Homo sapiens: one gene and its partner. The protein of the gene in region 2 interacts with the protein of the main gene of each other region in a biochemical or structural test. Each region holds a gene or a part of one and is shown on either strand. Other genes may lie near its edges.

What was found.
Region 1: the proteins of PLGRKT (region 2) and PLG form a complex in vitro, tested with the Homo sapiens proteins (one study listed by IntAct).

The regions. Positions count from the first base shown.
Region 1 is NC_000006.12:160,691,836-160,708,543, forward strand, and holds the start of PLG (plasminogen isoform 1 precursor), read left to right. Parts: upstream 1-10,408; 5' UTR 10,409-10,469; coding exon 10,470-10,518; intron 10,519-14,571; coding exon 14,572-14,707; intron 14,708-15,864; coding exon 15,865-15,971; intron 15,972-16,708. UniProt on the Homo sapiens protein: Plasmin dissolves the fibrin of blood clots and acts as a proteolytic factor in a variety of other processes including embryonic development, tissue remodeling, tumor invasion, and inflammation. In ovulation, weakens the walls of the Graafian follicle.
Region 2 is NC_000009.12:5,430,986-5,447,406, forward strand, and holds the start of PLGRKT (plasminogen receptor (KT)), read right to left. Parts: upstream 6,941-16,421; 5' UTR 6,804-6,940; exon of another isoform or gene 6,647-6,803; intron 5,710-6,646; 5' UTR 5,584-5,709; intron 999-5,583; 5' UTR 993-998; coding exon 912-992; intron 1-911. UniProt on the Homo sapiens protein: Receptor for plasminogen. Regulates urokinase plasminogen activator-dependent and stimulates tissue-type plasminogen activator-dependent cell surface plasminogen activation.

The DNA of each region.
Region 1 (16,708 bases), on a different chromosome or scaffold from region 2:
CACCCCTCTACTGACTGTCATCGCCAAACTCAGTGAGCATTTTTTAGTCCTTATCTTTCTAAAAGGACATCTTGATAGAGCGGGGACTGGAGCTCAGACAGTGCTGGTGATTAGGGTTGGGGTGTCTCCCCAGTTGATTTACAGTTGAGGCTTGGACACTGTTTTAAACTTGGGAGGAGTCTCCTAACCATCTAAACACAACCCTGATTCACCTGGTGGGCCAGAGCAGTCTGCCTGGAAGAAAAATACTGAGAAGCCAGCACTCTCATGACTATTGAGGTGCAGGGATATAAAATCTTGTACAAATTGCGATGGCTCTGGGCCAAGATCAATTTGTTAGAAACAGCCAGGCTTCCTGAGAGAATGTTCCATTAAGGGGAAAAGGAGTTTGGCTGGGCTTGACCAGGCAGTTCTCTCCCTTGGGGTCTCTCGTGAGGTTACTGTCAGATGGTGGTACAGCCACAGAAGTGGCTCCATACCACATGGCTGGCTGTGCCAAGCACTTAGCGGTCTCCCCCAACACCGTGATGTCGGGTTGGAGGGACTACTGGTTTGAGATAGAAAGTGGGACGAATGCTAAAACTCCATTTTAACCCTGCCACCACAGCACCAAAAAGCACATCTTTCAGCATGCTTTGTGGAAGAAGGATTGCATGTTTATGGCAATTAAAGATTGCAACACTTTTGATTCCCATAAAACTGTGTCTGGTTACACCTCTGACTGAACACAAGGGGGGGCTATCCTCTGAAATAGCAGAAACCTAACTTTCTGTGTGCAATGACAGCCAGAGCTTATTCCTCAGGTACCACCTGCCATAAATATACAAGTCCCTTTACCTAACAAAGACACAGTGATATTGGGGGTTCAGGCCACCACTAGTGGAGGGGGAGGAGACTAACCTTTGGCTCAACCTTCAGTGGAAGCAGATGTGCTTGAAGCTATTTGGGCAACAGAGTTCAAGGATTTGACCTGTGTCAACATGGGAGAGGGAAAGATTATAGCGGGACACTTTTGGCAAGCTCTGGAAGGAGACGAATTATGGAACATGCGCAAATAGAGACCGATGCACAGAAAAGCTAATAACATTCAGGCTCAGGGCTCCTTCCTTGCATGAGTCCCATGGCAGATTGTATTTTCCAAGATGGCAGCCACAAGACTCCAGCCACATGTACTCTTCTTACAGGATGAGGCCAATAGTCCTCCCATGGAAAGGTGGGGTCTATATGTCCTTCCCTAGAATCTGGGGAGACTTGTGACTCTCATGCAGATGATGCTGGAGTATTTCCAGGCTAGACTGTAAAGGAGAAATAACTTCTGCCTGATTCTGTTGGAAGCCAGTTGCAGGCTTCTAGGAAGCCCAGACACATGGAGAAGTTCTGAGTGTTTTGGCCGATAGTCACAGATGAGATTCCAGCAACAGCTGGGATCACCCATGAGATGTGCGTGAGGAAGGCTTTGAGATGGTTTCAGCCCTAGCCACCACTGACCTAAGAGACCACAAGAAAGAGAATCACCTGGCCAAACCCAGCAGACCTTCAGAATTCAGAAATAAAATAATTCGTCTTATTTTAAGCCACTGTGTTTTGGTTTGATTCATCCCATAGCAAAAGACAACTTCAACAGGCCCTTTCTGAGGCTCTGGAGGGGCCCTGGCAATGTATCCATTTGGTCATTTGCTTTTGTCAAAAGCAGACATTTTAGCTGTAATTGGCTAAAATTCTGATCTCTTTCTGCCCTCATGTTGGGTGGTGGTGGAGTGGATGTGGGCATTTTGAGGATCCAGCAAAAGAAGAATTGAGTTGAGTCATTGAGTTTGGGTTCCATGGGATTTATTTATGTGGTATGGAGTCATTTCTGTGTATGTTATTGCTAGCTGTCCCTGTGTAAAACAGATTTCAGAATAGTCTTCACCTCCCTTGTGCTGACTTACCTAGAGGTGTAATGTAAATATGCAAGACCATAGATTACATCACGATTGTGTCACAAGACATGTGCGTTTGCAGGAACATGGATGGAGCTGGAGGCCATTATTCTTAGCAAACTAACACAGGAACAGAAAACCAAATATCGCATGTTCTCACTTATAAGTAGGAGCTAAATGATGAGAACACATGGACACGTCGAGGGGAACAACACACACTGGGGCCTATCAGAGGTTGGAGGATGGGAAGAGAGAGAGCGTCAGGAAAAATAACTAATGAGTACTAGGTTTAATACCTGGGTGATGAAATAATCTGCACAACAAACCCCCATGACACATGTTTACCTATGTAACAACCCTGCACTTTTATCCCTGAACTTAAAATAAAAGTTGAATAAGAAAAATAGAAATGTACAAAGCTAGAAAAGAGTGTAGCTCATCCCATCTGGGAATTAAACCAAATCTTACAGCTCATACATAAAAATAGTTTGATAAAGATTTTCCTAAGTGTGCCAAGAATCCTGAAAACTAATCTTCCATTATCGATCATGAGCTATGAAGCCAGAAGAAAAATTTAAATCTATCAATAATAAAATACTAGAGCCAAAATAGTTTATTATTCTCTTCTCTCATAGAATATGATATTACAACATTATTGAAGAGGCAATCAAAGCATACACAGGCAAAAATGTTGGTAAAGGAGTATTACAGCAATAGGTCAGGAATTTGTTTAATTAAAATTGCTATTTTACTGAGTTTTATATATATTTAGTGGTAGCAGTAGCCAGAGTAGACTTTGCTGGAGTCTGGGCCATTGAGATTGGTATTATTAAGGTTATGTTGGCCTCATTTGCTCTTACCTTCTGGCATACACAGGATACATCTCACTTGATTTCTCACAAGTCTTTGGTACCCATGACCACTCCCACCTTTTTACAATTTTCACTTTTGCTGGCTTCTCTGGACTCACGCTGTCAATTTTCCCCTCTGGCTAACTGTTCTCAGTCATCTCTACAGAATTCTCTCCTTCTGGGTCTTTATGTTGTTGAGGACTTTATCCTAGGGCTTCTTTTTCTCTCTCTGAGCAAGCTTGTCCACCCCCATTGCTTCAATCCCACCTATCTGCTGACAACTGCTGATTCCACATCTCCAGCTCAGACCTCTTTCCTAGGCTCTACACCAGGAATTGGCAAACTTTTTCTGTAAAGCGATGATAACAAATATTTTATCAGCTTGCTGCTCATTGTACTGTCTCTGTCACATCTGCTCAACTCTGCTAAGGTAGTGCAAATATAGCCACAGAAAATGGTAAAAGAATGGGTGTGGCCATGTTCCAATAAACTTGATTTATAAAAATAAGCCTGCTTCATGGGCTATAATTTGCCAACTCCTGTTCTAAACCAGAATATTCAACTCCCTTCTGGAAATTTCCACTTGGGTTTTCTCAAGTTCCTAAACATAACATTGTCCCCAGGCAATTTCATCTTATTCCCTCCTATGTGTTCCTTCTTAATGAATGATCCACTATCCACCAGATGTCCAAGACAGAAATTCAGGCAGCATACTTGATTTCATTCCCCACATTCAGTCAGTCACAAAATCATGTCAATTCTACTTTCTCAACATCCCCCTAATCCATTCTTTTTTCTCTTTCTCCACTGCCTTCTTTCACCCCCTCTCATCTCTCACCTCCTATGACCTCCTCACTACACTGCAATCAGAGAGATCAAGCCACCCTTGGATTTTAAAAGCCTTCAGTAACAGTAGTCCCTGCCTTTCTTTGGCTGAAGTCTAAACTTCTTGAAACAGAGTGAGAAGCCTGCACAATTGGACCATTTCCCCATGTTAGCCAAATTCCTCTCATCTGCCTGCTCCTCCCGCCTCTGGGACCCTGCACATATATTTCTTCTGCTTAAAGAATGTGTAGCAGGTGAAGCAACTATCTGAGGCCAGTATCCCATGGGCAGTAAGAAGAATTTACCAAGACAGTTGTAGATAAAGAAAGGCAGATTTATTAAAGAAAGCATGAAAATATGTTGCAAGGCAGCAAGGGGCAGGCCAGCAAGAGAGGAGCTGAATGCCAAGAGACAAAGGCTTGCTGGGGGTTTTATAGGATGTTGCTTGTGCTGCGTGCTGAAGAGGGCTTAGTGCAGTACTGATAACACCAAGGTTGCAGTGGGATAACCTGCATTTTTCTATCAGCTGAGGGCCTGGTGATAGCTGGGCACAGGAAGATTGTGAGTTATTTGTGCAGGAGGGCTATGGTCCTGGACCATGAAGAAAGGCAAACTTATAGCTTATCTGCTTTCTCTTTCTTTTTTCCTCAGTGTCACCAGCCTGATTCCTTTTGCCTAATTAGGACTTCACAGAATTATTCTCCTTTCTCATCCTTCCAGCTGTCTTCTAAGTCTCAACTTGGATGTCACTTCCTCTGGGAAATGTCTCCTCACCTCTCAAGACTGTCTCTCTGTGCACCACTACAGCAAATGGGACCTGGGCCACTTCACTTTTACAATTCCAGTTTACAGACCTGCATTGCCCCAACCCCGTTAGACCAAAGACTCCCTGAGGGCAAAGATGGCCTCTTATTTACTCTTGATTCCCTAGCACCCAGCACAGCACTAAGCATTGTACCCACTGAAAGAACATCTGAAGGATGAGCGTTTATAGCAAAAGTGGTTTCCACTGACGTTCCCTTCTCTCTTCCCCAACTTTGGATTGAGGAGCCCAGGAGCTGGTCAGGTGGCAAGATAAGATGAGAACGGAGAAGTCATTACTTGGGGCCTCTGTTTTGCTGGTGTTTTGCTGGTGTGTGGAGATGGTGGGTTTCCCTTGAATACCTGGGAGGCAGGAGCAGGCATGAACTACTCCAGCCTCTGGGTTCTGGATCCACATGGGGTGCTGCTGCTCTCTGGCACCCATCAGTCCTTAACCATCTGGTCTCCAGCCAGGGAAGGAGCGTGGTGGTGGAGAAGCCTCTCTGTCCCACCCACTCATCCCAGGAGCTCACGAGAATCAGCCAAAGTCCGAGTTCTGCACCCTGAGTTAGGAACTCTATAACTTTAGACTTTCCCTGAGCTTTGGGAGTTCTCTTAACTAGTGTGAAAGCAGTTACATCATCCTGGGTCCTCCTAAAATAGACACATGTATCCAAATATAGGCACATGTATTGCAAACATAACATGTATGTATATATGTAAATATATACATATAATTTTTGTTTTGAATTAAGTATAAACACAACAAGTTACAAATATAGTACTGAGAGGTCCTTGTATGGCCCCGCCTCCCTCAGGCAGTATCTTACATAACTATAGTTCATGATTACAACTGGAAAGTTGCCATTGGCACCACATCAGAAACTAGTCTGCAGACCTTGCTCAGATTTCACCAGGTTTTTTGTGCACTCATTTGCTTTCCTGAAAATATTTTAATGTTTTTCTACATGACTTATCTCCCCGACATACTGTGAGATAAGGTTTTTTTTTCTCCGAATAAGCTTAGAGAACAATGAATGTGAGAGGTGGGAAGGATGATTTGGTGCATCTCTGTTTTATCCATGGTGAGTCTGGACCTCAGAGCAGAAGGACCCTCGTCTCTCCTCTGGGGAGTCCTGGTGCCAACTCAGTGCAGGCTGCTAAGTTATCCGGGTCTGACTGTCTTCTTCTCTGCTAAAATTTGTCTTAAGCATGTAACACAGCCATGCTTATTAATGATGAGGAGACAGCCAATGAAAATTAATTTTTTCAAAGATGAATAGATATCTAGATTTTTTCAAGCACAACTCATTTAAGAAAATATCACCTCACTGAGCCCCAAATGAGTTAGGTCTCACTTAGAAAGTGTCCCCTAGTGCCAGGTAAAGTGCCTCATATTTGCAATCCCAGCACTTCTGGAGACGGAGATAGGAGGATCTCATGAGCCCAGGAGTTCAAGACCAGCCTGGGTAACATGGCAAAACCCTGTCTCTACAGAAAATACAAAAAAAAAAAAAATAGCTGGGCGTGGTGGCGTGCACCTGTGGTCCCAGCTACTCTGGAGTCTGAGGTGGGAGAATCGCTTGAATCCAGGAGGTTAAGGCTACAGTGAGCTGTGTTTGCACCACCGCACTCCAGCCTGGGTGACAGAGCCAGCCTCTGTTTCCAAAAAAAAAAAAGAAAGAAAGGAAAAGAAAATGCCCCCGAGTTGATTACATTTTAACCACTGTGCTAACTTGAGAGATAGTCTGCTATCTCTTTACAGGACATGAGGGCTGATAATCACCTCATTGCATGGTCCTGGGGACTGATGAACAAAGGCTAACATGTGGAAAAGGGCAACTAAAGAAAGAAGAGCCACCTCCAGGTTAATTAGTACAAGTCTCCTCGCTGGTATGCCCTAATACACTAAAACAGCAGTAAAAACAATCTGCACATTGGCATCGAAGGCACAGATAAACTTGCCGAGGACCCTTACCACGGCAGAGGGATGCTTTATATGAGTCCTTAGTAGATTAATTAAGTTCTTGCTAGTTCCATTTGGAAATGATGCTGTCCTCTTGGGGCTATGCAGAGAAGTTCATGTTGATGAAATGAGCTGTCCTAGAATGGCAGTTCCCGGGCAGCAGAGCCTGGGCTCAAGGAAGGTTGAAAGAAGGGGTGGCGTGGAGCTGCCAGGTGCAAATGTCAGGCCAGCAATGCAGTCCAGCTTGCATGGACGTGCTTCGCCTAGGAAGTTGTGACTTGGCTGCATTTTCCACTTCAGGTGAGATGGAAGGTTGAACTCTACCTCACCTCCTGGTGAGGTTGATGTTTCCTGGTGTTTATAACTTTCTTTGTAAATACTTGAAAGGAATTTACCATTTTAATGCTGGAAGAGACGTCTATTCCTTCTTAAGAGGACCTGAGTGGATCTTGATTGCAGGCCTTATGCTGGGCAGAGCTAAGGAGAATTCAATTTGTCTCCAATCTTATTTGAATGTTCTTTTTTTTTTTTTTTTTTTTTTTTTTTTTGAGACAGAGTCTTGCTCTCTCACCCAGGCTGGAGTGCAATGGCACGATCTCGGCTCACTGCAACCTCTGCCTGCTGGGTTCAAGCAATTCTCCCACCTCAGCCTCCCCAGTATCTGGGACGACAGGAGCATGCCACCATGCCCTGCTAATTTTTGGTATTTTTAGTAGAGATGGGGTTTCACCATGCTGGCCAGGCTGGTCTCAAACTCCTGACCTCGTGATCCACCTGCCTTGGCCTCCCAAAGTACTGGGATTACAGGCATGAGCCACCGCGCCCAGCCTATTTGAACGTTCCTATGCCTGCTACAAGTGCAGCAGCAGAATCTCCACACATCTTGCGTGCGAAAGTTTCCTGTAGTTCCTTTAGCATAGAGAGGCTGGGGAAGGTTAGAGACTGACTTGTACTCTTTAGACATATAGTTGATCATTGAACAACACACGTCTGAACTGTTACACACAGATTTTTTTCAATAAATGTGTTAGAAAATGTTTTGGAGTTTTGCAACAATTTGAAAAAACTCAAAGACAAACCATCCAGCTAGAAATATCAACAAAAATAGAAAAAGTTAAGTATGTCATGAATGCATAAAATATATGTAGATACCTAGTCTATTTTATTCTTTACTACCATAAAATATAACAAAACTATTGCAAAAGTTAAAATTTAGTAAAAATTGTGTACACACTCACAGATCGTATATGGTGCTATTCTCAGTTGAGAGAAGTGTATACAAACATCAAGATGCAGTATTAAATTGTAACTGCATAAATTTAACCGTAGTGCATACCACACTATGGTAATAATTTCATATCCTCCTCCTGTTGCTGTTGCAATGAGCAAAGGTGTTGCGAGTATCCACTTAAAACGTTCTGTGATACTCAACATTCCATCATGAGCAGTTCATCCCCAGTGAATTGCGCATCACAGTAAAAAGTGCTCTCTCCCTGTTCGCATGTATTTTTCGTCCTGTTTCGTGCTGTACTGTAAACCTTGAATAACACCATGGGATCCAATATGAAGTGGCACTAGTGATGCTGGAAGTGCTCCCAAGAAGCAGAGAAAAGTCATGACATTTGACATTACAAGAAAAACTGGATTTGCTTGATATGTAACAGAGACTGAGGTCTGTAGCTGGGGTTGCTTCCATTTCAGACAGATGATTCATCTTGTAAACAGGTGGTGTAAACTTACTGTATGGAAAAATACATAACAGTACCACAGATGTATTTTCTCCTTACGAACATTTCCTTTTCTCTAGCTTACTTTATTGTAAGAATACAGTATATCATACATATAACATACAAAATACATGTTATTAACTGTTGCTGGTCAACAGCAGGCTGTTAGTAGTTAAGTTTTTGAGAGTCAGAGTTATACCTGGATTTTCTACTGTGTATGGTCAGTGTGCCAACCCCTGAAATTGATCAAGGGTCAACTGTAATCCTAAAAGAATCTAATACAATATTGTAAACAGTAAGTGGTCAATAAATAAGGAATTGAACTAATAAGAATACATAAATCCCAGAATATGTGCAACCTGATCATAGTACACAGAGATCTCTCTATATATCTCTTTTCTTAGTTCATGCTGTTCTTTCAGGTAGAAAGCGCCTTATTTTGAATTAGTTGTCTTTAGAGCAAAAATCCCTCCAAGAGTGCTGTGTGGTTTCCTATGCACAACCTGGAATAGTCCATTGCTTCATGCCTACCCTGGACATGAAGGGCCATGCCGCAGCGGAAGTCTCTATGCACCCACCCCCGTCTATACCTGAGCAACACATTCCTCTTTGCTGCTCTCTTACAGGCTACAGAGTGCGGTGGCGCCAGCACAGAGCTCTGCTCAACGTCCCTCTGTGCTTTCACGATGCTGATGGATTATGAAGGTAGGGAAGAATGTACAGCCAGGAGGCCATTAGGAGGGCAACTAATTTATAAAATCACATTTGTAGAATTTAATGCATCCAACAACTACCAGGGGAAAGGTGGGCAAAAGCTATACCAACACCACCCAAGTCAAAACCAAAACAACAGGAAAAGAAAATTATGTGGATGTAGAATTTCTGATAACATCATTCCCAAGGTGCCTTATCCAAGAGGAACTGCTACAATAATATTTTAAGTGGAAATAAATACATGCTGGAAGCATTATATATTAGTAGAGTATTTTTTTTTCCCAGAGTACTTTCTCAAGCACATCAACATGAGCCCCCTAAGAGACATTTCACATTAAAAATAAAATGTCTGCCCACTGCTGGTTTCTCAATCTGCCTCCACCTTCTGTCCCCTTTAATGAACTGGGCCATGAGGTGAGTCAGAGAGGATAAAGGGAGTGGTAAGAATTTGAGGAGAGAAGAGAGTGAGGCTAAAATAGGAAATCAGGAAAAGCGATTCGGTCCCCCTGTCCCTCACATGGGGCCACCCTCTTGTTGCCCAGTGTGGCTTCTTCTTGAGGGTTCTGCATGGTTCCTCAATCCCAGGGAATTCCGCAGGACATTCCACCCAAGACCATTGGGCTCCCACCTCTACTCTTTTGCCAGTTAATGAATAGGCAGGAATTTCACTGCCTGGAAAGAGGAACAATGCTTTCTGGTCCTTATTTCACATCTAAAATAGAGAGGTCAATTGATTTATTCCTAAATATCTTTGAACACTAAAATAGAAGTTTTACAGCATATATACTACCTGGTTGCTCTAGACTTAAGCCAGGGAAAAGTACAGATTCAACATTTAAAATTGAGATAGACGCTTTCCACTTAATGCTACCAGTCTTGCTTTATTTCATGAGAATGAGAATATAATAATATGGCATACGTTCATTTGGGGGAAAGATTGATGTCTTATAACATAATTTATAATTACAGAAAACATGTGAGTTCACTGGGAATAAATAAATTTTGAAGATAATAAGATACTTTCACTTATGTCGTAATTTCTATGTCATTTGGTGTAGGATGTAGAGATATTAACGTTTACACCTAACTTAAGTTTGTCATCTAAGACCTGAAGGGGTTTTGTCTATCAGCTGCACCCCTGGGTAGAGACACAACCTTGGGGAAGGCCTCAGCCCCATCCCTCGTACAGCAGGAATGAGAACAGCCCTGCCTGTTGGGAAGCTTGAGGGAGGCTATGGACGTGCAGCGCTTGGCAGAGGGTCTCGTCATGGAAGGTTCCAGCAAATGTGAGATACTTTTATGATTTCATTTTCTCCAAAAGAAAGGGAATAAGAGAAGAGGGGAGGAAATAAGACTAATTGCGAGAGATAAAGTACAAGGGTGAGGGAAGGAATAAGGAGACATGACGGCAGCGTGGAGCAGCCGAGGGGGGAGATTGCTTTCACCACTTCCCAGCATCTATTGCAGATTCCACCCTCAAACATGTTGTAAGGACTCTTTATTCAAGGTAATGTTTGAACCCTGCTGAGCCAGTGGCATGGGTCTCTGAGAGAATCATTAACTTAATTTGACTATCTGGTTTGTGGATGCGTTTACTCTCATGTAAGTCAACAACATCCTGGGATTGGGACCCACTTTCTGGGCACTGCTGGCCAGTCCCAAAATGGAACATAAGGAAGTGGTTCTTCTACTTCTTTTATTTCTGAAATCAGGTAAGACATAGTTTTTTTAAATTATAAGAATTATTTTTTCTCCCACAATGTAGTAAAAATACATATGCCATGGCTTTATGTGCAATTCATTTAATTTTTGATTCATGAAACTTCCAGTTGAAAATCTTGTATAAGATTGAGGAATTCTTCAAGAAATAAGTTTAAGTTTCCTGTGAAGATTGTCAGGGTGCTGGAATGAATGGGCAGAGAAAATAATGGGTGATTTTTCAAATCTAAATGAGTGCACCCACATAATGGCCAGTCTAATTGAAAAAGAGCCAATGTAGCTAATTATGCAAAGGACGGCTAAGCTCTTTGCCTGGTTCTCAGTTTGACTAATTTATATCATCTCTGTTACGGTGTCATGCTCCCCTCACTTGCAAGTTAAAACAGTGAAATATCTCTTTGAATATATTCCGTTCTCTCACCAGTTCATGGTGGCGGCAGGGTCGGGGACTCAGCATTTCTCCCTTTGTTATGGCCTGAGGAAGGCTTTCCATCAGTATACGTTTGCCTCTTATCCCCGGAAAAATCACACGCATCCATTTGCCAGATGCTGTGTGCAGATAGTGATCAACAAATACTCAGTTGCTTGGGTTAGGTCCCTACATTTTTACACATACATACATACCTGTGTGTGAATGTGAGTGTGAGTGTGTATCCTTTACAAATACTAGCTTATTTAGCTCGTGGTATAGGTAGGGTAGCATATTCATCCTCATTTTATAAACAAAGAAATCAGACTTAGGAATATCATGTTATTTGCTCAGTGACCAAATTCTCAGATCTGGGAAATAAAGAAAACTGGATTTAAGCCAGGTTTCCCAGAAGGAATCTAGGGCTCTTCTCACTTTTCAGCTTTGTTTAAGCCTTTGAAAGAATATTCTAAACATGTCCTAGTACTTCTTTTTCTTTAAAAAAAAAAAAGCTTTATTGAGATATAATTAACATATAGAATTCACCCATTTAGGCATACAATCCAATGGATTTCAAGATATTGAGAGTTGTGCAGCCACCATCAGAATAAATTTTAAAACTATTCATACCCCCAAAAACGCACTCCACTCTCCTTAGCTGTTACCCCCAATCTGCAGCTTCTGGCAACCACTAATCTACTTTCTGTATTTATATCTTTGCCATTTTGAACATTTCATACAAACGGAATCATACGATTTGCTAGTAGTTCTTCATGTAAATAATGTACGCTTGAAATTCAATCTATAAATTACCAGATAAAATTTTACAAGTTGCACTTTAGAGTCAAATACATTTGAATTTAGTGGAAGCCATTCAAGGAGCTATCAAAGAAAATACAGAGCAGGAGAAAATTAAAGAAATTTTTGTAAGAAATTGGTGTATGTTGGGGGGTATGAATATTATATTTCAATGCATGGAAACTAGGACATAGATCACTATGAACTTATTCAGTGGGCTACACCCAAAGGCTAGATCAAACTTCTCTGCCACAGGATTAACATATGTTTTAACCCACCTGGTGGGCACATTCTCTCATAAGCTCTTTTGGAAAGCCAGGTTTTCTGTGGATGTATCATCTTTCCAGTGTGCTGCAATGCCCGGGGAGAGGGAAAAGTTTCTTTTACAGCCATGCTTAGTGGGAAGTGGAGAAACATCTTCCATTTCACAAATTAAGTCTTTTACACATGCAAATATGCATACACATTCACACACCACAGTGAGGAAGAAATTCTCACACCATTAATAAAATACATTTGCATCAGTAGCAATATACATCTGCATTTTGCCTATAATATAAATGTATTTTTCCACTAAAAGATTTGTTTGATGTTTCCTTGCCAGCAAATAAGCCCTATCAAATCCTATTGCCATATGAGTCCTAGAGGTGAATAAGAGAAGAAAAAATGGGGGAAAATTATTTCAAACTGAAAAGAGAAAAGTTTGATTCTGTTTTGGGATATTTCCTAGGGACATGAGCTGGGGAGGGGATCTCAGCAGCGATGCGCTATGAAGCATAGTAACATAACACAGAGAACTTAATTGAAGGGGGAAATAAATGGAAGTTTTCTTTTTTTGAATATCAGTTGTAGCCTGCTCTGCTATACTTCAAAAAAACTCTTCAGAAAGTTTAACTGAACTCACTGTAGGACACACTTTGTGGATTTATTGTGTGTTTTGAAGTCACACTGTGAGCTATATAGAATTAACCAAAACACAACTCTTCTTGAAAATGAGAGTTCAAGTTGGCAGAAAGTGCGGGGTAAAGACATGGATATGGGCCTAAAGCATCTATTTCTTTGTGATCTTTTGATATATCTCTCAAGTGCTTTTTAGTGGATTAGCTTTAGAATGCATCAGCCAACTCCTGCTCAATAATCCATTTTTCCAGCCCGGAATGTCTTAAATTGAGGAAGGACAAAGTCCCAGAGGTGGGGAGCAGGGGGACTTTGGCCGAGGACTTTGCATGAATCGATGAGCATGCATCCACCTCCCTGTCCTGCCCCTTGTGCTCTGTGTACCCTCAGGAGGTCAGGACAGGCCTTTCTGAGAATGAAAATCTGTTCATTTGCTTTCCTACTGGATACTTGTCATCAGCATACAAACCAATGCGCTCTGCAGTGTGTCATCTTTCAGAACCTCCCCTGACCGCATGTTCCCTGGAGGGCTCGCTGTCTTCAGAGCCAGGCTTGTCTCCTGCTGCAGCCTCCACTGCTCTCCTAGTCACTCTGTAACCCACCCCCTCTGCCTGCGGCCCCCACCACGCCCCTCAAAGTGGTCAAGGTTGTCCTGTTGTCTAATTCCATGGAGCTTGCCTGTCTTCATTTTATTAGCCTCTTTTGGCCTCTCACCCTTGTGCAAATCACTAGCATTCTGTGCCAAGGACGGAGCTGGCATCTCCAGGCTTGGAATAGAGCTACCAAAGCTCAGCCAGATGTCTGGAAGAGCCTCAGGACAAGGGGACACCCTGTAGCCTTGTGGTGGGAGCACAGCTGAGGCCCCCTTGGCCACCCTCTGCCACGACCAGGCAGAAAGCAGCTTTCGGACAGATTCGTTGTCTCAGATTTGATCTCAAAGAAAAACCAAGACCAGTATTTGTCCCAGGTCCTGCTTTTTTACAATTTCCTCCGAAATCCAGATACCTGTCAACACCTTGGAAAAACTGACTTCTCCCCAATTAGTAGTGTTGTGTGACTGTCATAAGCCCAGTACAAAAATGGCCTTCTTTGTTGGGGAGCTTCTTACCCTCCAGTGTTTTGCCCAATTTTTGTCCAAGGTGGCAACATAATTTAGTTCAGTTCTTGTTTATTTCCACCATCATCTATGCACCAAAATTTATGTTTCTCAAGGAGGGACCATTCAGAGGATGCTTCCCACCGGTTCAAGTGACAGTGCCAGAACCAAAGCGCATATTGTAGGAAATCAAACAATGGCCTCCAAGTTCCATTTCTACCCAGGGATGAACAAATCAACATCAATCTTGGTAACACAACTGCCACTGATGGTGCCTTACTCTTCTCTCATGACATGGCACAATCAATAGCAAACATAAAATTTGTTCTTGTTTAAGGATTTATATCCACTAATATGGTAACATAGTAGTGGTTCCATAGTTCTAACCTGTTTGTCAATCCAGTTAATCTTTTACTATCTTGCAATCTGCTAATGAAACTGTTTTTCTTTGTTTTATAATTTCAACTTTTAGAGTCAGGGGTACATGTGCAGGTGTGTTACATAACTAAATTGCGTGACACTGAGCTTTGGGGTACAAATGATCCCATCACCCAGGTAGTGAGCTAAATACCTACTAAATAGGTAGTTTTTCAGCCCTTGCCTTGCTCCCTCTCTCCCTTCTCTGGTAGTCCCCAGTGTCTTTAGTTGCCATCTTTATTTATGTCCAAATGCCCGACTGTGTGTTCTTAACTAAACATTTTGATTCATAGCTACCCATTCTACTTCCAGTAAACAGAAAGTTTTATTTGGTTAATGCTAACCAAATAGATTAAAAGGAAGTCATGACAATTAGACATTGACATTGATTTACTGACCATTTATTCCACTTGGATCTCCCACCTCTAGGTCAAGGAGAGCCTCTGGATGACTATGTGAATACCCAGGGGGCTTCACTGTTCAGTGTCACTAAGAAGCAGCTGGGAGCAGGAAGTATAGAAGAATGTGCAGCAAAATGTGAGGAGGACGAAGAATTCACCTGCAGGTATTTCCATTGTCGTTGCACCTACGCAGGAATCTGTAATTCAGATGGCAAGTAATTTACTCACAAATTTATTAATGATTTAAGAGGAAAGAGAAATTTATGGAGCCAGAGTTTGGAACTATATTTGCTCACAGTATGTGAAGCCATACTAACAGCTTCTTGTTAAGGTTTATTGGAGTCTTTGTTAGAAAAATACCCTCAAAGGAAGTTATTTGTTTTTACACCGGACACAAACATTAGCAGTTATTGTTCTGAGCTCCAGTTTTCAACATCATCATCAGTAAATGTTTGTTGAGGATCAGGTGAATGAAAGTGTCCTAGATAGATCTGAGCAATGACTTATAGCTACAAGATCCAGTGCCTGCCCTTTAGTATTTAAGGTGTAGTCAAAGAAACTGGATATAATGTTAAAAAAAAAAAAAAGACAGCCCAAGTGAGGTACAGGCATAATCAATGCATGCTCTACCCAGATCCAGAAGAAAGAACAGTGCCTAAGGTTGAGGCAGCTAGAGAAGGCTCAGGGAGGAGGTGGGAACTGAGCTGGGTTTGGAGTTGAGAGAGCTCTTGACAAGCACCAGGAAGGCAGGGGAAGATGCGGCCCTGCACCTTCTGAGGGGGACCATTAAGAGATGAAGTTGACTAAAGCAGAGACTTTGTGTAGGTGACGGGCTTGGGAAGGTAGCTATGGAATCCAGACTGAGCACCCATAGCAGGACCACGGGATGGAGATGGGAGGGGTCAGGGGCCAGGGTGGGGTGGAATGTGGAGCAGAGGTTCAGGGGAACTGATCAGAGTTGGGAGGTCATGGAGACGGACTATCTTGGCGAATGGGTTCAAAGCAACCAGAGTTGCTTCTTTCCAACCCAAAAACAAAAATTAAGAAGATGAGTGAAGAAGAAGTAAAGCAGTTGAAACAGGAAGAAAGGGAAAATTATGAGGGAGGGAAGGTAAGGGCAGATAAGATTTGCTGCCACGTTGGTGTATTTTGTTCAGTACTTCATCGATGCCATGCCCAAATAACTGAAAGAGGCAGCAATTCTGAGCTCTCTGGTCCCTCAAGATATTCAATGATCTTTAGCATGTCTCACTTATTAATAAACATTTGTTTTCTTTAAATAAAGAAAAATACTTATTGGATTTCCTGCTTCGTTCTGCAGGGCATTCCAATATCACAGTAAAGAGCAACAATGTGTGATAATGGCTGAAAACAGGAAGTCCTCCATAATCATTAGGATGAGAGATGTAGTTTTATTTGAAAAGAAAGGTGAGTACATTTTCTTCCTCCTCCTCCTACTGTCCTCCCCATCCTCCCACTCTTCCTCTTTCTCTATTCTATCTTTAATTTATAAGACCAGAGGAGGAAGGCACTATCGTGTTATAAAACTGAATTCTGAGTTAGGACAGGATTTGATTACTAACTAACCATGTCAGCTTGAGTGTATTACTTCACCTCTTAGATTTAATTTTTTTTGTTCAAAAGATGAAAGGATTAGATTTACAAAATCACTTCTACCTCTATGACCCTGAAAATAAGATTTTTAAAATATTATTTTATATTTAACAAGGAGATGGGAAGTCTAAGCATTCCTTTTGGTCTTGGCTTCTTATTCTGCAGGGTGACCATGGTCCTTGGGCCCTAACATCTGGATGAAGCCTTGTAAAACAGAAATACTGAGGTGTTTTAATCCTCAGAAACATTTAGATTGGGACACAAATCTTATTTTTACTCTTAAATTTTTCACATTTTGGGGGACATGGTCTATATTTTTCTCAGATTTCTGAAATGTTGTCTTTTAAAAATGTGTAAAAGTTACAGTTCCTTTTCTATAGTTTATTTTAAAATGTGGGTCAATAGTCCCACTGCTTAGAATAAGAGGCAGACAGGATTTCAATAGAAATTGCATGCCTTTTTAGATGTGCAAATGTTTCATTAAGCATTTCCCATCAAGTATATCCCATCAAGTATGCTCCCATTAAGCATATCCCATCAAGTATAAATAT
Region 2 (16,421 bases):
TAACAAATTATACGAAGTCTGTGGCTTAAAACAACACCAATCTATTATCTTACAGTTCTAAGTTCAGAAGTCCAAAATGGGCTGGCAGGACTGCATCCCTGTAGAGGCTCTAAAGAATAATCTGTTTCCGTGCCTTTTCCAGCCTCTAGGGGCTTCCTGAATTCCTTGACTCATGATCCTTAAACAATCTTCAAAGCCAGCAGTGTAGCATCTTCAAATCTCTCTTATACTGACTCTCATGCTTCCTTCTTTCTCTTATAAAGACCCTTGTGGGCCAGGCACACATACCTGTAATTCCAGCAATTTGGGAGGCTGAGGCCAGTAGATCATTTGAGGCCAGGAGTTCGAGACCAGCCTGGCCAACATGGTGAAACCTTGTCTCTATTAAAAATACAAAAATTAGCCGGGAGTGGTGGTGCATGCCTGCAATCCCAGCTACTAGGGAGGCTGAGGCACAAGAATCGCTTGAACCCAGGAGGCAGAGGTTGCAGTGAGCCCAGATCATACCACTGCACTCCAGGCTGGGCAACACAGTGAGACTCTCTCAAAAAAAAAAAAAAAAAAAAAAAGACAGACCCTTGTGATGACAATGAGTCCATCTGCATAATCCAGGATAATCTCCCCATCTCAAACATTATCTTTGGGGGTGGGGGGCATTATTCTATGTACCACATACTCTAAGCAGTTATCTCTTCCTACAGAATGGAAATTTTTACACAAATTTATCTGGATTGGAGATTTAAATTAGCCCATTCACCAGATAATTAGTAAGCCATTTTATCTTGGTTTTAAGGATGCAGCCCAAAGAACATTTTATTGTTGGGAGTCAAAGAGAATGTACGGCTGGAGTACATGTGGTAGAAACTTTAAGCATTGTAACAACATAATAGCTTAATTATTTTAAAACATACCTGAAGTCGAGCATTCATAAGCATGAACTCCTTTTGATTTTTCATGCTTTCATTCATAGATTTTGAAAATATAAACCCCATTTTGACCTAAAATGTAAAAAAAGCAAGGAGACTTATAATAATACACTACATGCATTCTTGTATGCTCCACTTTGAGCTACCTTGGGCTTATGACAAAGTAAAAAAAAAAAGTAAAATTTCTGATCTAGGAACACAGTGTGGATTCTAGTTCTTGCTCCTAACTAGCTGCCTGACCTCAGGCATACTTAACGAGTCTGGCCATCATTTTACTCACCTAACACCAACTGATTGAACTAGATAATTTCCAAAATCCTTCCCTGCTCTATAAGTATATGGCTGTTTCCTGATTTTTCTTCCCACCATAAATCTTGAAGAACTGAATTCTTGAAGAAAAAAACAACTCTCTTTTTTTGTGAGGGGAAGGGTGGATACCATCCATCTTCTTACCTCTGTACAATTAGGCAACAGAACCTTTGCATCTGAGGAGGGATGATTAAGAAGATGCCTTGTGCGTCTTAAGAACATATTTCTTTGTGCTCTTTGCATTTGCGTTTTAAGAAGATTGAGCTCTCCCTCTCCCTCCCCCTCCCCCTCCCTCTTTCTACGGTCTCCCTCTCTTGCGGAGCCTGGACTGTACCGCCATGATCTCGGCTCGCTGCAACCTCCCTGCCTCTGGCTCCGGTGATTCTCCTGTCTCGGCCTGCCGAGTGCCAGGGATTCCAGGCACGCGCCACCACTCCTGACTGGTTTTTGTATTTTTGGTGGAGACGGGGTTTTGCCGTGTTGACTGGGCTGGTCTCGAGCTCCTGGCCTCGGGTGATCTGCCCGCCTCGGCCTCCCGAGGTGCTGGGATTGCAGACGGAGTCTCGCTCATTCAGTGCTCAATGTTGCCCAGGCTGGAGTGCAGTGGCGTGATCTCGGCTGGCTACAACCTCCACCTCCCAGCCGCCTGCCTTGGCCTCCCAAAGTGCTAAGATTACAGCCTCTGCCCGCCCGCCACTCCGTCTAGGAAGTGAGCAGCGTCTCTGCCTGGCCGCCCTGTCTGGGAGGTGAGGAGCATCTCTGCCCGGCCGCCACCCCGTCTAGGAAGTGAGGAGCGTCTCTGCCTGGCCGCCCATCGTCTGGGATGTGAGGAGGGCCTCTGCCCGGCCGCCCCGTCTGGGAGGAAGTGAGGAGCGCCTCTGCCCAGCCACCCCGTCTGGGAAGAAGTGAGGAGCGCTTCTGCCTGGCCGCCCCCTCTGGGAAGTGAGGAGTGCCTCTGCCCGGCCGCCACCCCGTCTAGGAAGTGAGGAGCATCTCTGCCTGGCCGCCCATCGTCTGGGATGTGAGGAGCCCCTCTGCCTGGCCACCCCGTCTAGGAAGTAAGGAGTGTCTCTGCCTGACCGCCCGTTGTCTGGGATGTGAGGAGCATCTCTTCCTGACCGCCCATCGTCTGGGGTGTGAGGAGCATCTCTGCCTGACCGTCCACCGTCTGGGATGTGAGGAGCGCCTCTGCCTGGCTGCCCCATCTGGGAAGTGAGGAGTGCCTCTGCCCGGCCGCCACCCCGTCTAGGAAGCAAGGAGCGACTCTGCCTGACCACCCATCGTCTGGGATGTGAGGAGCGCCTTTGCCCGGCCGCCCCGTCTGGGATGTGAGGAGTGCCTCTGCCCGGCTGCCCCGTCTGGGAAGTGAGGAGCGTCTCTGCCTGAGCGCCCATCGTCTGGGATGTGAGGAGCGCCTTGGCCCGGCCGCCCCGTCTGGGATGTGAGGAGTGCCTCTGCCCGGCTGCCCCGTCTGGGAAGTGAGGAGCGTCTCTGCCTGAGCACCCATCGTCTGGGATGTGAGGAGCGCCTTTGCCCGGCTGCCCCGTCTGGGATGTGAGGAGTGCCTCTGCCTGGCTGCCCCGTCTGGGAAGTGAGGAGCGTCTCTGCCTGAGCGCCCATCATCTGGGATGTGAGGAGCGCCTTTGCCCGGCCGCCCCGTCTGGGATGTGAGGAGCGCCTCTGCCCGGCTGCCCCATCTGGGAATTGAGGAGCACCTCTGCCCGGCCGCCCCGTCTGGGAGGAAGTGAGGAGCGCCTCTGCCCGGCTGCCCCGTCTGGGAGGAAGTGAGGAGCGCCTCTGCCCCGTTGCCCCAAATGGGAAGTGAGGAGCGCCTCTGCCCGGCCGCCCCATCTGGGAAGTGAGGAGTGCCTCTGCCCGGCTGCCACCCTGTCTGGGAGGTCAGGGGCGTCTCTGCCCCGCCGCCACCCCGTCTGGGAAGTGAGGAGCGCCTCTGCCCGGCCGCCACCCCGTCTGGGAGGTGAGGGGTGTCTCTGCCCAGCCATCCCGCCTGGGAAGTGAGGGGCGCCTCTGCCCGGCCGCCCTTCGTCTGGGAGGTGGGGAGCGCCTCTGCCCGGCCGCCCCGTCTGGGAAGTGGGCGCCTCTGCCTGGCCACCCCGTCTGGGAGGTGAGGAGCACCTCTGCCCGGCCGCCCCATTTGGGAGGTGAGGGGCGTCTCTGCCTGGCCGCCACCCCGTCTGGGAAGTGAGGAGCACCTCTGCCCGGCCGCCGCCCCGTCTGGGAGGTGAGGGGTGTCTCTGCCCGGCTGCCCCGCCTGGGAAGTGAGGGGCACCTCTGCCCGGCTGCTCTTTGTCTGGGAGGTGGGGAGCGCCTCTGCCCAGCCGCCCCGTCTGGGAAGTGGGCGCCTCTGCCTGGCCGCCCCCTCTGGGAGGTGGGGAGCGCCTCTGCCTGGCCACCCATCATCTGGGATGTGAGGAGCACCGCTGCCCGGCCGCCACCCCGTCTGGGAAGTGAGGTGTGCCTCTGCCTGGCCGCTCCGTCTGGGAAGTGAGGAGCGCCTCTGCCCGGCCGCCCTGTCTGGGAAGTGAGGTGTGCCTCTGCCTGGCCGCCCCATCTGGGAAGTGTACCCAACAGCTCCGAAGAGACAGCGACCATCGAGAACGGGCCATGATGACGATGGCGGTTTTGTCGAAAAGAAAAGGGGGAAATGTGGGGAAAAGAAAGAGAGATCAGATTGTTACTGTGTCTGTGTAGAAAGAAGTAGACATAGGAGACTCCATTTTGTTCTGTACTAAGAAAAATTCTTCTGCCTTGGGATGCTGTTAATCTATAACCTTACCCCCAACCCCCTGCTCTCTGAAACATGTGCTGTGTCAACTCAGGGTTAAATGGATTAAGGGTGGTGCAAGATGTGCTTTGTTAAACAGATGCTTGAAGACAGCATGCTCGTTAAGAGTCACCACCACTCCCTAATCTCAAGTACCCAGGGACACAAACAGGGCCAAAGGCCGCAGGGACCTCTGCCTAGGAAAACCAGAGACCTTTGTTCTTGTGTTTATCTGCTGACCTTCTCTCCACTATTATCCTATGACCCTGCCACATCCCCCTCTCTAAGAAACACCCAAGAATGATCAATAAATACTAAAAAAAAAAAAAAAAAGAAGAAGATTGAGCTGTCTCAAGGTCAGTAGACCAGTTATTCTTCCTGTCATCCCACCACAATCCCTGTCCCTCTCCTACATGCCCCTTATTTCCATCCACCCACTGCTAACTGCCTTAGCCATCCTCCTCCAGCTTCACTCTCATTCTCTCCAAGATAGCATGTACTAAAGTTCTCAAAAATGGAAAAACATACAGATACTTGAATGTCCTGGAAAATGTACTTTTTAGATGAATGCACAGTAGTGTCTATCTTATGTAAGTTTTTAAGTGGGCTGTCAACTCTACAAGGGACAGAACTCCAATTTTTATTCTTAATCCAACTGGGTGGGTACAGAAGACCTTGAGTTAGTTGGTTGCATTTCAGAATACTGCAAAACTCAGGGGAAAGTTACAACTGCTCTACCCTTCTCAACAATGTTGCTGATACCTTTTCTCTTTAATAGGCTGTTGAGTAGGGTTGTGAACCTCAGGTAAGAATGGCCAGTCTTAATTCATTACAGCCAGGATTCCCAAGTATTCTGTGGGAAGCCCAGCTAATGGGGTTCCAGGTGAGTGGGAGCTGCAAGCAAGACTTCAGTGACTTCCTTGTATTCTGATCAAGGATACACCTGGAGTTTCAGGGCTCTGTGCCAGAGTCAGCTTCAAAGCTGAGCACAGGATACCAAACCACTTACCAGGATGAAGAGGCACAATGCTGAAAAGGCCTGAGGTGGTGAGATTTCCCTCCCCTTCTGCCACTGTGCCACTCGAGCACCCTGTGACCAGAGTTAGAGGCCACTCACTGACAGCAGGGTGATTTGGCAGTTCTTTCCTTTCTCCAAACCCTAACAGTCCCATGCGACTCATCTCTAACAGCAGACCAGAACCTGCCTGAGGTTAGGAGCGAGATATTATCCATCTTGATAGTCTCCATGGTGTCTACTTCCCCTAAATATTTGCACAAAGCATGAGAGATACAAGAAAAACTGTGGCTCAGGCCACTTGCCATTACTTATTTTTCTTCTGAACATAGGAGTGGATGACTAAATTTTTACACCTGCTGCAAACATTTATAAAGAAAACAACTGTACTCTAGTACTATTCCTCCACATACCCTGTATATCACAGAGCTGTGTGCTTTCAAGTGCTCCTGTTTGTAAGGGGTTAGGATCTCCCCTGAAAAGAGAGAGTCCTCATGTCAATCATCTGGGAAAGAAACACTGTCTGGGAAGTTAGTATTTAGATTTACCTCTTTCTGGGCCTTGCTCTCCTGGGTCTGGACTTGTAGTCTGAATGTGTTAGAGGACGCTCCCAGGTGGAAGGGTTAAAGGTGGAAGCCAAGCAGGAAGAAGAGCTTCCTTATGGGAAACCACACCTGAGAATAAATAAATGCATCACACCTTGTAAATTTCACCCTGGAGTTCAGTATTTTCAACATTCTTTCCTTTCCCAACTTCCCCATTCCTGGCAAAGTCATTTCCCAAAGTCTGGGAATATTCCGTAGGGTGTCCAGAACACTTTCAGCTATCTCCTCTTGCTCACAAAATATGTATCAGAAAATAAGCAAAATTGACCTTGCAATAGGGATAACTTTGATTTCACTCACTTGTATAAGTTAAGTCTTTTAAAAATTCTAACACTTTTCACCAGGGGTAAAAAAAAATGTCTTGCTACTTATACAATTTTAAACATCACTGTGTCTCAGAGTGATGTTTTGCAGAGAATGCTGATTTCAATCCCTCTGTCTTCATTTTCCCTTTGATTCCTTCTGAGATCTTGGAAGGGGTCTTTAATGCTTCAGCCCTGCCTCAGGTGAGCTATAGATTACTATGGGAAGGTGTATTTCTGGGGAGGAGAAGTGGTGCCTGCAAGTTCCAGACAACCTTTCTTCCGGTCACCCGTGAGTACCTAGATTTGATTTTACTTGGGGGGACATAAAAAATTAATTGCATGAATTCTGTCATCGGGATTACCACGCTGACTTATTTCCCGATCAGATGACACATTGCCTGAATGTATGACTGATCGTCTCACCACAGTCATTTTCAATATTTGCATCCCATTGAAATTAAGCCACATCCCCTTGCAAATTCCAGCCCAGAGCCCACAGCTTCCGGAGGTTTTCTGTAATTAACACCGCCCTTGCTCCCTGAGGCCAGTTACTGTAATTTAGGTATTCCCCGCAATAGTGTGCTGATTTCTGTTGAGAGCACTGTGCCTGTTTTTCTCAACTCTATTTTAAAGCTACGGAGAGATCCGGAGTCCACGCCAGGCGACAAGAACGCGCTCTAATGGAACGAAGTTGGCAATACCTATCAGCACCAGGGGCAGTGCGAGAGCCAAGAGCCGGCGCTCACGAGGAGCGGGCGCCCAGCGCTGCCTGGCAAGCCCGGAGCCCAGGAGATCGCGCTGACTGACATGGCCGGGCTGACCCTTCTCCCCACCCGCCTGCGGCCGGTGTTCACTCACTGGGCGGCGCTGGTGCCGGGACCAGGCGACCGGTACGCAAACCTCCAGGCCCGGGCTCCTTTCGCCCGCTGCAGGGACCGGGCCTCGCTCCGCCCAGCGTCGGGATTGGCGCCCAGACACAGTAGATGACGCACCTCAGCCAATTCGCGCAGCCCTCAGCTTCTTTAAAGAGCCGGCACTTCCGCCAGAAGCCGGGTGTGTCCTTCCGGGCCAGGCTCAGTGTTACCAGAGGTGGGAGGGGAAGGTCAAAAGAGGCAAATTCAAAGCCGCGGCGACTCAGCTGCCAGATTTTTGAGATGAGGCAGAGGAAGCGGAGTGGAATTCTCAATTAAAGGCCTCTGTCCCCTCATCTGTTAAATTGGCACTATTAAAAAGTCATAAAGATAAGACAGAAACGAGAAAGAAGAGAATTGACTGAAATTACCCATTCTTTTTTGAACAGAGCCGTCTTTCTCCCCTGCTGCTCAGAGAGATGTCGGTCTCGCCTCAACCTCACCAGCAATTTCTATCTTGAATAAGCCACGTCTCTCTCCCAGCCTGAGAGAATGCTTGAATTGTTGGCACTCTGTTCTTTGCTACCAAATGGCTTGGAAAAATAGCATGAACGTCACCAGTCTCTGGCCTTCAGGAAAGTCCCTGCTAACCACCACAGCGGTGGAGAAGGCGTCTAACTTTCTCCAGGCTCAGCGTGTGAGTGCACACCGCCCTGACCTCCTGGGCGCGTCTTGATGCTCTCAACAGCAGCCCTCAGGATTCTGGACTGTGGGTCCCACATTCCAGATACCATTTGTGGAATGGCTGGATGAGAAAATTGCAACAGCACCCTCATTTCCAGTTAAGGGAATGGGCGGGTTACCAGGAGGTTTGACACTCTTGAAGGGAGGTTAACAACTGATGCAAGAAGTAAGGAATCGTGTTTGAGTGCACAGACTCTAGCATAAACACACCTACCTTCAATTTCTAGCTCTGTCACTGTCACTCTGAATTTATCACCTCTGCAACAGGACTAAAGCCATCTAATTTATTGGATTGTGAGGACTAAAAGATAATATATGTGGGCATTTAGCACAGTGTCGGGCACATAGTTCGCCTTCCGTAACCAGTAGTAACCAGTAACAGCGGGGAGCTGTTAGTAACTATAGGGCTGAGGGGTGGGGGAAGGAAGCAGTTACTAAAACCAGGCGAGAGCGAGAGCGGTAGCTGTGGCTGTACGAGAGAGTAACCAACTGGAACCGTGTCGTTCAGTAGAGGAAAGCAAGCAATGCCAACTTTTCACCAAGTAAGGTGAGATTCTATAGTTGTAGCCAGTGCTGAGACGTCAGCCCAAAGCAGGGACAGAGTGGAGAAGACCCACCTCTCTGTTCTCCCAGCTCTGATATCCAGCTGGGGTCTTCCGCTGGCTGGATCCACCAGGAAGCCAGAAGACAGTGGAGCTAGGTCTGTGTAGTCTGTAGAGGTCAGCCTACTAGGCACAATGCCTGGAGGGAGAAATAGAAAATATCCAGCACACCATTTCTTTTTTTTGTTTGTTTTTACACTTTAAGCTCTAGGGTACATGTGCACAACGTGCAGGTTTGTTACCTATGTATACATGTGCCGTGTTGGTGTGTTGCACCCATTAAGTTGTCATTTACATTAGGTGTATCTCCTAATGCTATCCCTCCCCCCTCCCCCCACCCCACAACAGGCCCCGGTGTGTGATGTCCCCCTTCCTGTGTCCAAGTGTTCTCATTGTTCAATTCCCACCTATGAGTGAGAACATGCGGTGTTTGGTTTTTTGTCCTTGCGATAGTTTGCTGAGAATGATGGTTTCCAGCTTCATCCACGTCCCTACAAAGGACATGAACTCATCATTTTTTATGGCTGCATAGTATTCCAGCACACCATTTCTACAACCTTGGGTTTATTGTGTTTGGAAGCCTAGATCCAAAGGAAGGAATGCTGCCACTAGAAGACCCCGTCACTGAATTGAATTGAATTTCAATTCATTGATTCGAAAGCTGAAACTGCCCTCTGGTCACTTTGATTCCTCACAGTGACAGAATGGTATGATTCATCCCAAATACCAAAAGGAAATTGGGTTACATCTATATATTGAGGGCAAGAAGAACTATGCATGACACCTGGAGATTCACTGGGCACTTCTTAATACTGCCGTGTGCCATAATAATGATTATCAGATAACTGAAGTAATGCAGAAATTTCAGATCATGAAGAAATTAAAGTGTTGAAGCATACCAGATAAAAAAATCCTGATCTACCTAGGTGTTGGCATAGGGCAGGGGAAACATACATAAGTAAATGAGTAGGAAGCTATGATTATTAATTTTAGCCTTGCAACAAGCTCTAGAGGCAGGAATTATAGTAGCTCTCCATTTAAAATGTTAATTACTTCTTCCCTGACTCTCTTTTCCTATTACCCTGCATAAAGAGTAGTGGTGGAGATAAATATTACAATTTAGTTTCTGGGTGAGAATGTGCCTGAACTGACATCCCCTCAAGGCAATATGGCAGCTGATGAGGCTTGTTAAGGAAAATCAAAGCTGGACAATAGCTGTAGCAGTAAAAATAGATTTTTATTCAGCAACTTTTGAAATAGGGGGAAAGAGACCTTGGTAAAGAACTGGGCTCAATTCTGAATACAGTAAGGATAAGTGGGGATTTATAGCCGAGGAGCAGGTTGTGTGGATGGGGGTGGGGTCCGTGGATGGAAAATTACTAAGAAGAGACAGCAAGGGTAGGGGAAATCCTTGCTAAACTGACCTAACAGGATTCTTGCTAAAGGTAGGCCAGGGTAAGCAGACATCACCTGGGGGCTGGTGGGGGTAAGGAATTTGATCAGATATTGAGAGTGGTCAAACATTCAGGGTGGGAAGATCCTCTCTAAACTGACTTAGCAGGATTCTTGCCAACACTGATTCTGCAAGGATGAACACTGCAGCCCAAGGTCAATATCTAATCAAGGAGATGGCTTAGAGGAGCCTGACTAAAGTTTGGTCGAGGAGAAATCTTGTCAGACTCTGTCATTCTCATATGTAAGGGATGAGCTGCTCTTCATCTGAGCAAAGGAAAAGAATAAATTCTGGGTGACAAAACAATTAGACTGTCTAGGTTTTCTGTTTGCCTTCCATCATATTCATTCTCCTCACTTCCCTGCCCTGTTCTATACCCCAAAGCTGACCTCTTTGGACGGCACCACCTGGGCTCTCCTCAGCTGGTTTCCATTTGAGTTTGGACAGCGGGAGGCATTCAGGGAGATGGGAGGCAGGAGGAAAAAGACATCAGGGTATATTTTCTCTGTTCTTTCTCTGTTTGGGGCTGAGTATCTGGTGGTGGTTGTGTTTCTCCACAATTGCAGCTCTTGGCAAGCAGTCCCTTCTCCATGGCTCCAGCTCCATGGGCTCTGGAAACACTTTTCTCCTTTGCTATGTAGCCTAGAGAGAGCGCAGTCTTCCTGCTGTTGCTAGACTCTGGATGACTCAACTGGATGGTTCTCTTAGTCATACTCCTTTAAGTAGTGTCTTCACTAATATCTCTTTAATCAAACCAACTGAGTAAAATTCTGATTCCTGATGGATACATGTTAAACCGAAAACACACATTATAAATTTTCTTGTATGTATGATGTTTTTCATAATTTTAAAACATAAGTGAAAAAAGTGACCATAGAAAAATATGCCCAGGAAATTGAAAAAAAAAGTCTTGGTATAGATATTGGACACATTTTATAAAATGTGGAGTAAGAGGGTTAAAGGAAATTTATTTCAGAATCAAATGGCATATAACTTTAACTGGTATGTGAATTATTTTCAGTTGTATGAATTTGTGAATATATATGTGTACATTTTTATGCATATATATAAATATGTGTTTTATATCATCTTGCATTATAACATAAGGATTTTTATGTTGCTACATTGCATTTATATTTACCATTTTTAACAGCTAAAGGATTTTCAATAAGTGTGTATGTAACAACTTCCATTGCTGGATATTTCTCAGTATATATATGTATATATACATATGTGTGTATACATATATATATACATATGTGTATATATACATATGTATGTATATGTATATGTACGTATGTATGTGTATATATACATACATGTGTGTATACGCATATATACATATGTGTATATATACACGTATATACATGTGTGTATATATACACGTATATACGTGTGTATATACACACGTATATACATGTGTGTATATACATGTGTGTATATACACACGTATATACGTGTGTATATACACACGTATATACATGTGTGTATATACACACGTATATACATGTGTGTATATATACGTGTGTATATATATAAACACATATATATATGCACATGCATATGTATACACTGAGTTAAGTAGTATAAATATTTTAGAGAAAATTGATGTAAAATCCTCAACTCATTTGATGCTCCCTATCCCAGGACAGTAAAAATTGCCCAATATTTCCTTGGACCTCCATAAAGAAGCAGTTTTTCAAAAAATAAAGTGTTTGGAAGTTTAAGATGTGCCTAGCAGTGTCTCCTTTTAACAGAGATGCTTTCACAAGGATTTGAATTTCCCCATTGAGCTGGGAACCAGGTTTAGCCAAGAACTTCGGTCTGTGAAGGACTGCAAATAGTTGCACAGTGTGGGGCTGAGGCTAGAACCTCCTTAATATTAAACCATTCTGGGATGGTGCTCCCCAAATTCTGGATTTTAACCTTCACTCCAATCCTGGGGCACCTCTGTAGCTTGGGCATGACCTGGACACAAGCTTTGTGTAAGCCTTCTTTGGACTTCATCCATTCCTCAACGGTGACACCATGTGGCAGTGTAATATAATGGCATCAGTGGACTCAGATCCTGTTCTCTCCCTACCTAGAGATTTTTAAGATTAAGATATGTAATTCACAACCATAAAATGTACCACCTTAAATTGTACAATTTATTGGTTTTTCATACATTCAAAAAGTTGTACAACCACCACCATTATCTAATTCCATAACATTTTCTTCACCCTAGAAAGAAACCTCATACCTATTAGCAGCCACTCCCCAAACTCCCCATTCTCCCCATTCCCCCAGTTTCTGGGGACCCCTAACCTACTTTTTGTTTTTATAGATTTGCCTATTCTGGACATTTTATATAAATGGAAGCCTACAATCTATGGCCTTTTGTGTCTGGCTCCTTTTACTTAGTATGATCAAGGTTCATCCAAGTTGTAGCATGTACCAGTACTTCATTTCTTTTTATGTCTGATTAATGTTCCAATGTATGGATATACCACATTTTGTTTATCCATTCAAAATTGTGGGGCATTTGGATTGTTCCCATTTTTTTTGCTGTCATAAATAATGCTGCTAAGTTTTTGTATGAACGTATGTTTTCAATTCTCTTGGGTATATATGTAAAAGCAGAATTGCTGGGTCATATGGTAACTCTGCATTTAACTTTTTGGAGTTGAACAAATACACCATGCCAGCAGTGAATAAGGATGCTGATTTCACTATACCTTTGCACAATAGTTAAGAGCATAAACACTGGAACCAGATGTCTGGGTTCGAATCCCAGCTGTGCTATCTCCTAGCTGTGTCGTTTAGACAAGTTACTAAAGCTCTGTGCCTCAGTGTCCACATCTCTAAAATAGAGGCAATAATAGTACCTTCCTTACAGGATTGTTGTAAGATTTAAATGAGCTAATATGTGTAAATCACAAAAATAGGGTCTGACATTTTTTAAATGGTATATGTTTTACCATTGCTGCTATTTTAATCTTTATTATAATTATTGTGTTTTGTTTTGTTAATTTGATAGCTTTAAAAGGTAATGATACAGTTTATTGATGTTTGTTATGAAAAGGAGTAATTGGAGAAGATAAAAATGTAAGGGGTAATAAAGTCAAGGAAGGTTTTTTGAGCTGAAAATGATTATATTTCAGAGTGTAACCTGAATAAAACTGAGGCTTCACATGGCTCAGTCCATGCATGTAATAGCATTCTAAGAAAACATAAACTGAATGAAAACGTAAACTGTGAAGCATGAAGAATAATGAGGGTCTTCACCTTATGCTTTCTGAAGGAGTCCCCGCAAATGCTTCACACAGCATATTGAACAAGAAACTCCTAAAATCTTCTCTAGATATTTCTCTCTTTCCTATTTTTTCCCACTGACAGTAGCACCTTATATCTATCCTCCTCAACTGCGAGGTCACTACAGCACTATACTAAGCCCCTGTTAACTTCCTTCTCTTGAAACCCATGCAACTCACATGATCCTATTCTCAGCCTGTGAATCTCAGCCTCCTGCAATCCTGTGAAATTCAACTTGGTCTCCTACTCTGAATGTGTATAAAAATAACAGAGAACAGTTCCTGAACTCTGATGAGTAAAATGATCTACCTTATTACATGTGGTATTATAATAAATAAATATACATTAATTTCTTTCCCCATTTTCCAGCACACAGCTCCTAAAAGACTTGTAACTTCCTGAGTGATAGGTATGCTAGGTAAATTTTTTGTTCTATGTGACCTTCGACTCCAGTTCTTGACACAGAGCTCCTGATCCCTTGGAATTTCCATAGTGATAGGAGCATCTTTCATTCTCCTGAAGTAACTTGGTGGGCTTCTGGATGGGAGCTGGTCACAAGAATGACCAAGCCATGATTAGAAGCTTGGAACTTTCACCTCCTACCTCATCCTGTGAAAAGGGGAGAGGGGCTGAAGATTGAGGTAACAATTGCTGATGTGTACATGATGAAGTCCCCATAAAAATCCCTAAATGAGGGGATTTGGAGAGGTTCTGGAGGTGCTGAACGTGGAGGTGCTTGGAGGGTGGCCTATCCAGTTCATCTCCAGAGTTCACACACTCACCTAAGTGCTGATGCCCACCTGATGGCATTTCTCAGCCTCCGAGGCTTTCCTTCTTTGTACTTAGTCAAAAGAATGCTCTAATCCAGTCTATCATTGATGGGCATTTGGGTTGGTTCCAAGTCTTTGCTATTGTGAATAGTGCCGCAACAAACATACGTGTGCATGTGTCTTTATAGTAGCATGATTTATAATCCTTTGGGTATATACCCAGTAATGAGATCGCTGGGTCAAATGGTATTTCTAGTTCTAGATCCTTGAGGAATTACCACACTGTCTTCCACAATGCTTGAACTAGTTTACAGTCCCACCAACAGTGTAAAAGTGTTCCTATTTCTCCACATCCTCTCCAGCACCTGTTGTTTCCTGACTTTTTAATGATCGCCATTCTAACTGGTGTGAGATGGTATCTCATTGTGGTTTTGATTTGCATTTGTCTGATGGCCAGTGATGATGAGCATTTTTTCATGTGTCTGTTGGCTACATAAATGTCCTCTTTTGAGAAATGTCTGTTCATATCCTTCGCCCACTTTGTGATGGGATTGTTTTTCTCTTGTAAATTTGTTTGAGTTCTTTGTAGATTCTGGATATTAGCCCTTTGTCAGATGAGTAGATAGATTAAGGAAATATGGCACATATACACCATGGAATACTATGCAGCCATAAAAAAGGATGAGTTCATGTTCTTTGTAAGGACATGGATGAAGCTGGAAACCATCATTCTCAGCAAACTATTGCAAAAACAAAAAACCAAACACCGCGTGTTCTCACTCATAGGTGGGAATTGAATAATGAGAACACTTGGACACATGGTGGGGAACATCACACACTGGAACCTGTCGTGGGGTTGGGGGAGGGGGGAGGGAAAGCATTAGGAGATATACCTAATGTAAATGACGAGTTAATGGGTGCAGCACACCAACATGGCACATGTATACATATGTAACAAACCTGTACGTTGTGCACATGCACCCTAGAACTTAAAGTATAATAAAAAAAAAGAATTCTCTAATCCATGGAATAAGTGTTGAATAATGAAATTCTGATATTGTGTTTAATGATATACTGCACTATTCAGAATATTTGTACTTACCTTCGAGTCTCTCTTCTAAAAGATGCCAAACCCCCTTACACGAAGTAGAAAACGTCAAATATCTAAATATTGTATCTTAATAATGTTCAAACATTAAATGTTTCAAATATTCCAATGTTTAGAATCATAAAAAAAAAACATAAGAATTGTTTTAAAAAAATGCTCTAAACTTAACCCACAGCCCTTCTTGTGAATTTCTCCAAAATAACTGGAGCCTGGTTAATAGCAAGCCTCAGGAGCATGGCTTTGAAATACTGTCAACATACTGCCACCAATTTCTCCATTTCCAGAAAAGACTGTAATTTTTTCTTTAGAAATCATGATTTTCTTGATTGGTTTAGACTGGTTTCCAGTAGTTCACTTACCAGGAAAGTTTCTGTTTTGTTTTTAGACTTCCTTAATTTAGAGAATGCACATAATATTGAAACTGGCTATAGTATCCTACTCTGGAAAAGCATATTAAATACATACAAATATATATTTAATGTATATAAATACAAATATATATGTAATGTATATAAATATATACAAATATATGTGTGTGTGAGTATGTATCTTCCTTGATTTCCTTTTATCCATTACCACTAATATCCCTCAATAAGTCCTACTGGTTCTACTTCCAAATTATATTTTGAACATGCTCTACAGAAACAGCTCCTAAAGATTTTCCAGCCTCCATGAATGTAAGTCCCCTCCATATTCCATTCTTCGTACCACAGCTAGAGTGGTATTTTTAGAACATTCATCAGGCAACTACCCTGCTCTAAGCCATCTGGTGGCTTTTCATTGCAAGTAGAATGCAACCTCTCCCCTAGTCCTCAAGGCTCTTCATGATATGATTTGACCCTCCCATCCCTCTTCCTCACTCTCTACCCACAATTCTCTTCTTTTCATCCTTGGAACTTGCCAAGCTTGTTCCACCCGTATAGTCTTTGTACCTGTCTCTTCCCATGGCCAAATATGCTCTTTTGGCAGATCTTTCCATGGTTATCTTCATGATTCATTTCTCAGATATCACCTCTTACACATTTCCTGACCACCATAACTAAAGGAACCTCACACCTGTGCACTATACCATATTGCTCTGACTTGTCTTCTTTTTTCTTGTATAGGACTTTTCGGTATCTGAAATTTTTATTTATTAATTTCTGTTTGGAACATATCTCTCTCAGAGCAGAAAGGTCTTGCTGTCCTTTCAAGGAAATGGTGGGGAAAAGAAAAATTCTCATTCTTTTATGATGAGCCTACAAAAATAAATGGGTTAAATGGGTTCTTGATCCAGTTCACCTTAAGTGTGGTTACCAAAGGAAATGATTCACAAGGTGACTATTTCATTTGTGTGACACTCACTTATGTTATTAGTTCTAGGATATTAAATCAAGAAATATTTTCTAGGATCCCCTGAAAGAGTATCTCTCAATTGTAAACTTTATCTTTAGTGGCATTTTGTTGATTTATTGAGATTCCCTAGATTTAAAATATTTACCACAGAGTGTTCCCCAACTCCCACAGCATTTATCCAGGCCATAACTACTTATGTCTGGATTTATGAACTTATTGTGGGTGGGGGAAATTGTTGGAGGTCTCATCTTTGTTTTAAAGTACCTGTGGCATGGGGTCTGCCCTTTGAAGGCAAGAGCTCTTCACCTGCCCAGCTCTT